Regions from separate parts of the Homo sapiens genome. Here all the other regions are linked to region 1. The links come from fine-mapping of genetic effects on gene expression. A gene starts in region 1. Each other region holds a variant in brackets. All regions are shown on one strand. Distances are between the middles of the regions.

Region 1 (2,765 bases):
GTACAAGGAGGAGGTGTCTCAGAGCTAATGCTCTGTGCTGACAGCAGCCAGGCACCACGACGGTGTCATGGGTACAAGGAGGAGGTGTCTCAGAGCTAATGCTCTGTGCTGACAGCAGCCAGGCACCATGACGGTGCCATGGGTACAAGGAGGAGGTGTCTCAGAGCTAATGCTCTGTGCTGACAGCAGCCAGGCACCACGACGGTGTCATGGGTACAAGGAGGAGGTGTCTCAGAGCTAATGCTCTGTGCTGACAGCAGCCAGGCACCACGACGGTGTCATGGGTACAAGGAGGAGGTGTCTCAGAGCTAATGCTCTGTGCTGACAGCAGCCAGGCACCACGACGGTGCCATGGGTACAAGGAGGAGGTGTCTCAGAGCTAATGCTCTGTGCTGACAGCAGCCAGGCACCACGACGGTGTCATGGGTACAAGGAGGAGGTGTCTCAGAGCTAATGCTCTGTGCTGACAGCAGCCAGGCACCACGACGGTGTCATGGGTACAAGGAGGAGGTGTCTCAGAGCTAATGCTCTGTGCTGACAGCAGCCAGGCACCACGATGGTGCCATGGGTACAAGGAGGAGGTGCCTGGTTTTCGGGAGCTTGCCATCTGAACAGACCCAAGGTGGCAAATACACAGTGAGAAAATGGGGCCATGAGTGCTGTAATTACCTACAGAATGTTTAGGGGGACTGGGAGCAAAAACAATCCCCTCTTTCAGAAACCAATCCTGGAAGGTGCTGGAAGGTTGTACTAGCTGTGAAAGTCAGAGGCCACCAGGCAGCTATCGTGAGACCAAAGGCAGTAGTCAGCTCAGGCAAGCCGGTTTCCTTATTTATGTCAAATTCCTCAGTCTTGGGTCTCCTTATCTTTTAAATAAGGAGTTAGAATAGAATTTGAGGGCTGTTCACTCAGGCATCCATGGTGGCTGCAGCATAAGGAGTGTGTGGTGTCAGGATGGGAAGGGCAACATGGAGACTGCATGGCCATTGACGTCTGAAAGTCTCTGGTTGCCAAAAAGAATCTATCTACAACAGCATTCATCCTGACAGCAGCCAACAGGCAGCCTAGACCTGGCATGCCACAGCTCCTCTAGGCTCTGAACCCCTCTCAGCTGAGCCTGGTAGATGCCAGCTGACCGGCTGCAGCCCCTGAGTAGAGGTTGGCTGTCCTAGCAATAGAGTAGGGCGGGGGCACAGCAGACATGGGACCATCATCTGGATTCCTAGACGTGCAACTGCAAGTGAGTACATAACCTCCTGAGCCCCAGCTCTCACCTGAAAGCTGAGTTAGGCGCACACACAGGAAGGCAGAGATGGGTCCAGGGCTGGGCTTCTGGTTCCTCTACTCAAACTCTGCTGCTCCCTGCCCCTCTGCCATCCCTGCAAGCTCCTCACTGACCATGCTTGTCTCAAGCGTTCTCTCTTCCTCCTGACCTCCTGGGGACTTCATAAATCCAGTATCTTTTTAAAATAATCTATTATTTTAGGCTCAGGGCTACATGTACAGGTTTGCTATACAGGTAAACTCATGTCTGGGGGTTTGTTGTACAGATTATTTCATCACCCTACATGTACAGGTTTGCTATGTAGGTAAACTCATGTCTGGGGGGTTTGTTGTACAGATTATTTCATCACCCTACATGTACAGGTTTGCTATACAAGTAAACTCATGTCTGGGGGGTTTGTTGTACAGATTATTTCATCACCCTACATGTACAGGTTTGCTATACAAGTAAACTCATGTCTGGGGGGTTTGTTGTACAGATTATTTCATCACCCTACATGTACAGGTTTGCTATACAAGTAAACTCATGTCTGGGGGGTTTGTTGTACAGATTATTTCATCACCCTACATGTACAGGTTTGCTATACAGGTAAACTCATGTCTGGGGGTTTGTTGTACAGATTATTTCATCACCCTACATGTACAGGTTTGCTATACAGGTAAACTCATGTCTGGGGGGTTTGTTGTACAGATTATTTCATCACCCTACATGTACAGGTTTGCTATACAGGTAAACTCATGTCTGGGGGTTTGTTGTACAGATTATTTCATCACCCTACATGTACAGGTTTGCTATACAGGTAAACTCATGTCTGGGGGGTTTGTTGTACAGATTATTTCATCACCCTACATGTACAGGTTTGCTATGTAGGTAAACTCATGTCTGGGGGGTTTGTTGTACAGATTATTTCATCACCCTACATGTACAGGTTTGCTATACAGGTAAACTCATGTCTGGGGGTTTGTTGGACAGATTATTTCATCACCCTACATGTACAGGTTTGCTATGCAGGTAAACTCATGTCTGGGGGTTTGTTGTACAGATTATTTCATCACCCTACATGTACAGGTTTGCTATACAGGTAAACTCATGTCTGGGGGTTTGTTGTACAGATTATTTCATCACCCTACATGTACAGGTTTGCTATACAGGTAAACTCATGTCTGGGGGGTTTGTTGTACAGATTATTTCATCACCCTACATGTACAGGTTTGCTGTGTAGGTAAACTCATGTCTGGGGGGTTTGTTGTACAGATTATTTCATCACCCTACATGTACAGGTTTGCTATACAGGTAAACTCATGTCTGGGGGTTTGTTGGACAGATTATTTCATCACCCTACATGTACAGGTTTGCTATGTAGGTAAACTCATGTCTGGGGGGTTTGTTGTACAGATTATTTCATCACCCTACATGTACAGGTTTGCTATACAGGTAAACTCATGTCTGGGGGTTTGTTGTACAGATTATTTCATCACCC
Region 2 (2,765 bases), 46 kb after region 1:
GATACGATGGCGGAAGGGGAGGCGACCTCCCTCTGGGATTCGAATCCAGCCCTCCCACCTGGCAGTCATGGGACCTCCCTAAGCGGTTTAACTGCCAAGTCCCAGATCCCATCTGTGAAGCCAGGTGATAAAAGCTGTGGGTCACTGGGTCTCCTGGGTTCCCAGAGGTGCCCATGGCCGTCTCTAGAACAGCAGCTCCCCGTGGGTGGCACCTGTGTTCCCAGGCACAGTCCCGCCTGGATGCCTCCAGCCCACCTGGAGCTGTGAATGAACCAGCACCTTTCCCGCCTCCTTCCAGCCCTCCGACCATGGCCTCTCGCAGGACCCCTGGGAATCACCCTCATCTGTCACTGTTTCCCCACCGGGACCCACCACCGAGGCTACCAGGGAAAAGCCACAGGATTTGTTTGCATCTGGGGAGGCAGCTCCACCTTCCTGGCATGAATGGTCACTAATGATTGGACTTTGTCAGCCTGCAAGGCAGGAAGGAGATTTACTCTCCACAGACTGGACAGTCCTTAGCTTTGTGCTTGCCACATAAATGGCATTTAATACATGCTCCCTGGACTCAGCACCACTCCTGAAGGCCTGTATTGTGGTCAGCAGTTATCATTTCTTCCACAAATGAGCTCATTCTTCTCCTCTCAGGATCAACCCTTTCGCCTTCACTGAGGCATCAGACACCAGCATTCGGAGGGACACCCACTCCATCCTCTTCTCTCAGCTGCCTGTGGAAATTCCCATCTCAAACACGTGACTCCCCACAGAGTGGCACTCACTGATCACGGATCTTAACTTTAAAAGGTGAAAAATAAGTCAAGGCTTAAGGTAAAGTAACGGGAGGTGTGGATGTCTGAGCAATGCGGTGAACCGAGTCACGGGGCCGCGGAGATGTTCGCAGCTGGGACTTTCCAGGCCTCCCGAACGCAGAGCGCCCGAAGCCATCAGTGGCCACAGAGTGTGTTTCAGGTGTGATTTGGGGTCATTTATGCCAATTTTATTCTTCTTTTATTTCCATCTGGTTTTCTTTCTATAAATTGCATACGTCATGCATGCTACGTTTTATAGTCATCCGTGTGACATCCGTCTCGCACAGTGAGTTAAGGAGGACGTTCCGCTACAGCTGTACTTTTTACTCAGCAAAATAAAAAAAGAATAAAGATGAGCTTGAAACTCCTTTGGAATCACTACATTATCTGTTGCTTAGCAAAAGCAATCCATGAATAACACACATGTACACACATGATACACATTCATAC[A/T]CACACAAAAACACGTCTGCACATATGTGTATACATACACATAGAGACATAGGCACACATGCTCTGAAGGTCTGCATGGTGGAAAATTCTAGACATGTTCATTTCTACTTCCTGCCAAGCGCTGAAAACTTGGTGTGCCTGAAAAATCACTTGGCTTCTGTAACCAGATTTACCAAATTAAAAAATTAAAACTGTCCAAGTGTAGAGGCACTAGAGTTTTGTGTCATCATTATTTTTTGAACCACCAAACTTTTATGATGTTGTTGCATTTTTAACAATGCTTGAGTCAAATATCTCACGTAAAAAGAAAACTTCTAAAAAGAAAAAACAATCTAAAATCATGAAAATTTTTGAAAGCATAACCTGCAGTCTCTCCCTCCCCAAAATTGTGTGAATTTGTATGTCATGCATTGATTTCTTACAGTAGTCAGAATGTCAGCCGAATACCACAAAACACGTGTGTTTAGAGAGACTCCCCCGAAGTTGGGAGTGGTGAGAAATGGCGGGAGCTTGTCCCGAACAGACTCCTGGTGCCAACAATACCAGTGAGGAAGGTTCATCTCGAAAAACAAAAGCACTGAAGAGAAGCTGCATGAAACGAGGGGAACTTCACTTTTATCCTTAGATAAATGATTTTTTTAAATTTTGTGGCCACATAGGTGTATGAATTTATGGGGTATGTGAGATGTTTGGATACAGGCATGCAGTGTGAAGTAAGCACATCACAGAAAACGGGGCGTCTGTCCCCTCAAGCACTTATCCACTGAGTTACAAACAACCCAACTACACTCCCTAAGTTATTTTAAAATGCACAGTCAAGTTCTTACTGACTGTAGCCCCCCTGTTGTGCTATCGAACACCAGGTCTTACTCATTTTTCTATTTTTGCACCCATTAACCATCCCACCTCTCCCAGCCCCGCTACCCCTTCCAGCCTCTGGCAACCGTCCTTCCCCACCCCATGTCCATGAGTTCAATTGTTTCAATTTTTAAATCTGACAAATTAGTGAGAGAGAGAGAGCAATGTTTGCCTTTCTGTGCCTGGCTTAGAGAAATCATTTTAAAATTTCTGGTGTGCTTGATGGTGACAACTAACAGCCTGTGAGTTGGGGCTGCTCCGGTGAGGGGTGTGATGACGGGGAGGCTTCAGCCAGGTGGGCAACCAGGCCCTGACAATGGCCCAGCGGCGACGGGAGCCTGATGAATGTGCTGCAGGAGGTCAAGGCTGCACATCGATGTCCTCACGGCTGTGTGAATGGGTGTGAGACAGAGTCGTGCAAGTTCCAGCTGTGACTGATGAGAAAAATCACAGATATCACAATTTTCCCAGCCACAAAATGGGGGAGCAGCAGAGTGAGGGCCCAGTGCAGAGGAGAGACAGACACACCTGCACACGCACGGCGGGACGGGCAGCTGCATGCTCACCCCAGGACCTGGTGTGGAGGAGTACAGACACACCTGCACACTCACGGTGGGACAGACAGCCACACACTCACCCCAGGACCTG
Region 3 (2,765 bases), 25 kb after region 1:
CAAATGCGATTGCTTTAGAGGAAGTCTTGAAATCAGATGAGGTAAGCCTTCCAGTTTTGTTCAGCCTGTTGGCTATTTTCTATGAATTTAAGAAGCAGCTGAAAATTGATGTTAATTACAAAAAAAAAAACCTACTGAGATTTTATTGGGATTGCTTTGAACAGATTAATTTAAGGAGAGAGACACCATCCAAATATCCAGTCGTCTGGTCCATGAACATGGTTTTCCTCTCTGTTTATTTAGGTCTTTTAAAACTTATCTTAGCAATATTTTCTAGTTTTCATTTTACAAGTCTTAAAAATATTTGTCAAATATTTATCAAAATGTTCCATATTTTGATGACTTTATAAATGATATTTAAATGTAAATTCCCAATTGTTCATTGCAAGTTTATAGAAACAGTTGTTCTGTGTATCCTCAGCCTTGGTAACTTCCCTCTTAGTTCTAGGCATTTTTTTGTGTCAATGAAAAGAGTCAAACTCTGTAAAGTATTTGAAGAGATTTATTATGAGCCAAAAGAGAGTGGCCAATGTCCTGTGACGCAGCCTCAGGAGATGCCGAGAACATGTGCCTCAGGTGGTCGGGGGCAGCTCGGTTTTCTACCTTTTAGGGAGACATGAGGTATCAATCAAACACGTGTAAGATGTACGTTGGTTTCATCTCGAAGGGTGGGACAACTCTAAGTGGGGGACTTCCAGGTCATTTAAGATTTAAAGATTTTCTGATTGGCAATTGGTTATTATCAATAGAAGGGAGTGTCTGGGTTATGATAGGGGATTGTAGAGACCAAGGTTTTATCATGCAAATGAAGCCTCCAGGTATAGACTGTAAATGTTTCTTCTCAGACTTAAGAGATCTGTGTTGATATTAATGCTAGTCAGCTTTTCCTGAATTCCAAATGGGAGAGGGAATAACGAGGCTCGTCGACCCCATTCCCATCATGGGCTGAGCTATTTTTTCAGGTTAACTCTGGAATGCCCTTGGCCAAGGGGAGGAGTCTGTTTAGATTGTTGGGGGGCTTAGAATTTATTTTTGGTTTACATGTTATGCAGAATTTTCTACAGATGATGATGCCCTCTGTGAGTAATGATAATCTCACTCTTTTCTTTCCAAAC[A/G]TGATGTGTTTTTTGCTTGTCTGAGTAAGCCGACTAGGATTCCTGGCACCATCGTGAACGGCTCTGGTGGGCACAGGCAGCCCTCTGCTGCTTCTGATCTTAGGTGGGAAACTGTCATATTTCACCACTAATAAAATTTTAAAAGACAATTCTGGCAAAGATCAGAAATGGCAAAGACAGTGGAGGGTGACAGAGGGGTTTGCCTGCAACAGTTCATGTTTTTTATTTTGTTAAAAGAGAGTTACAATTATTACAGAATATTATCGGGTAGAAAACAAATGGCATTTGTCTTACATTATTCTTTCTACTTTGCTTTTTGTTTTTAAAAAATATACCAGAGAAATGAAAATAAAGTCAGCCTCCATAAAATTATGAAGAAGAAAGGCAGTATCATAATGATTATGCAGGAACCAAGGACTGGCCTGGAAGATGGGCCCCCAAGCTCACAGGGACACCAGCAGGCACTGCTTCTAGACATGGAGCCTCAGTTCCAGAATGTCCCGTGACATGACCAGGAGTAGGGAACCAGCCCTCCCGACCTCCATGTCTTATTTGCCAGGCAGGGGTAACTGCAGGCTGGCCCTGACCAGGATGACCACTGGCTCCCACTGTGGATGCATTTCGTGCGTGGCCTGCATTGGACATCGGCTCACCCATGTGCTGGGGTGTCCAGGGTCCAGGGGAAGCTCCAGGACACATTTGAGGATCAGGAGAGCAACCTGCATAGTGCAGGACTCTTGTCAGGGAGACCACGACCCGGGAGCCTTTCCTAGAAGACACAGAGTCCCCAAAAATACCTGTGACAAGGGTCTCATCACAGCACTGTCTGAGAGTGCTTGGAGAGAGGGAACCTGCCTGCAGCTGTTCCCAGAGCAGTGGGGCGGGGGACACTCCCCTACTGAAGAAGGCATTTCCTTTTGGCGCCTCCAGTTCCCCCTGCCAGGACGTCAGCACCCAGGCTCTGATGTGGGCTGCTGGGGGCCACGGCACTGCAATGCTGCCCTGGATTGAATGGGGCGGGGGCTATAGATGTATAATACAAGTTGGATTTTAGAGACTTGGTATGTGGCATAGAGTCTCAAATGTCCAAAGATGTGTCGCATTGATTTCAGGGTGAGTGGATAGTTGTTCTGATATACTGAGTTCAGTAAAATACATCGGCAGCAGGAATTTTACCGGTTACTGTTTCGTTTTTGTAAATATGGCTACCACAAAATATAAGGGCACGCAGGTTCACGCCCTCACCCAGCACTGGCCTCCCCTTCCCAGACAATCAGCCACATCTTCGCCTGCCAGCATGGCCCCTTGTTCTCAGGGCTCCTGCCCTCATGCTCCTGTGTCCTCCAGTCCCCCTGCCCTCTAGGAAGCCTCGTGGCTGATGGGGCTTTGCTCAACCTGGTCTCGCGCTCACCTCCACCTTTGGCTCTAAGGCTTGTCATCCCTAAATGAGTGCCACCGTCACGGAAGCTTCAGGTCCACAGAGCTGGATGCCCCGGCCAGGCCTGCCAGCCTCATTCCTCGTCCAGAGCACAGTAGCTCCTGCAGGTTCCCCTCCTATTTGACCAAAATAACCCTCCCGATCCCCTAAATTTAAAACTTCAGTGTGGACCCTGCCTGGGGTTCCAGGACCCCAGCCCCTCTGCTTCGCTC

Direction of the effects. Positions count from the first base shown, and alleles are read on the strand shown. Sizes are in standard deviations (SD) of each study's normalised expression. Not every link is listed here.
With allele A in place of G in region 3, the expression in left ventricle of the gene that starts at base 1,198 in region 1 is higher (moderate effect, 0.54 SD a copy in GTEx).

Evidence for each region. PIP is the estimated chance that this variant, and not a neighbour inherited with it, causes the effect. A credible set is the group of variants that fine-mapping cannot tell apart.
Region 2: its variant is the best candidate, but not a certain one, in a credible set for the expression of LINC01880 in left ventricle (GTEx, PIP 0.58).
Region 3: its variant is the best candidate, but not a certain one, in a credible set for the expression of LINC01880 in left ventricle (GTEx, PIP 0.66).

What each region holds. Positions count from the first base shown.
Region 1 is chr2:242,082,571-242,085,335 of GRCh38, reverse strand. LINC01880 (long intergenic non-protein coding RNA 1880) reads left to right here and starts at 1,198. Exons shown (of 4, transcript NR_146651.1): 1 at 1,198-1,240.
Region 2 is chr2:242,036,407-242,039,171 of GRCh38, reverse strand. The region is part of intron 3 of LINC01237 (long intergenic non-protein coding RNA 1237); the gene reads right to left. LOC105373980 (a long non-coding RNA gene) reads left to right here. Exons shown (of 3, transcript XR_924086.3): 2 at 1-124; 3 at 299-1,177. Among named protein-coding and RNA genes, the nearest start is that of LINC01880, 46 kb to the left of the region's middle. The variant A/T (reference allele first, on the strand shown) is at 1,260.
Region 3 is chr2:242,057,573-242,060,337 of GRCh38, reverse strand. The region is part of intron 3 of LINC01237 (long intergenic non-protein coding RNA 1237); the gene reads right to left. It overlaps LINC01880 (long intergenic non-protein coding RNA 1880), which reads left to right. Exons shown (of 4, transcript NR_146651.1): 2 at 1-41. Among named protein-coding and RNA genes, the nearest start is that of LINC01880, 25 kb to the left of the region's middle. The variant A/G (reference allele first, on the strand shown) is at 1,116.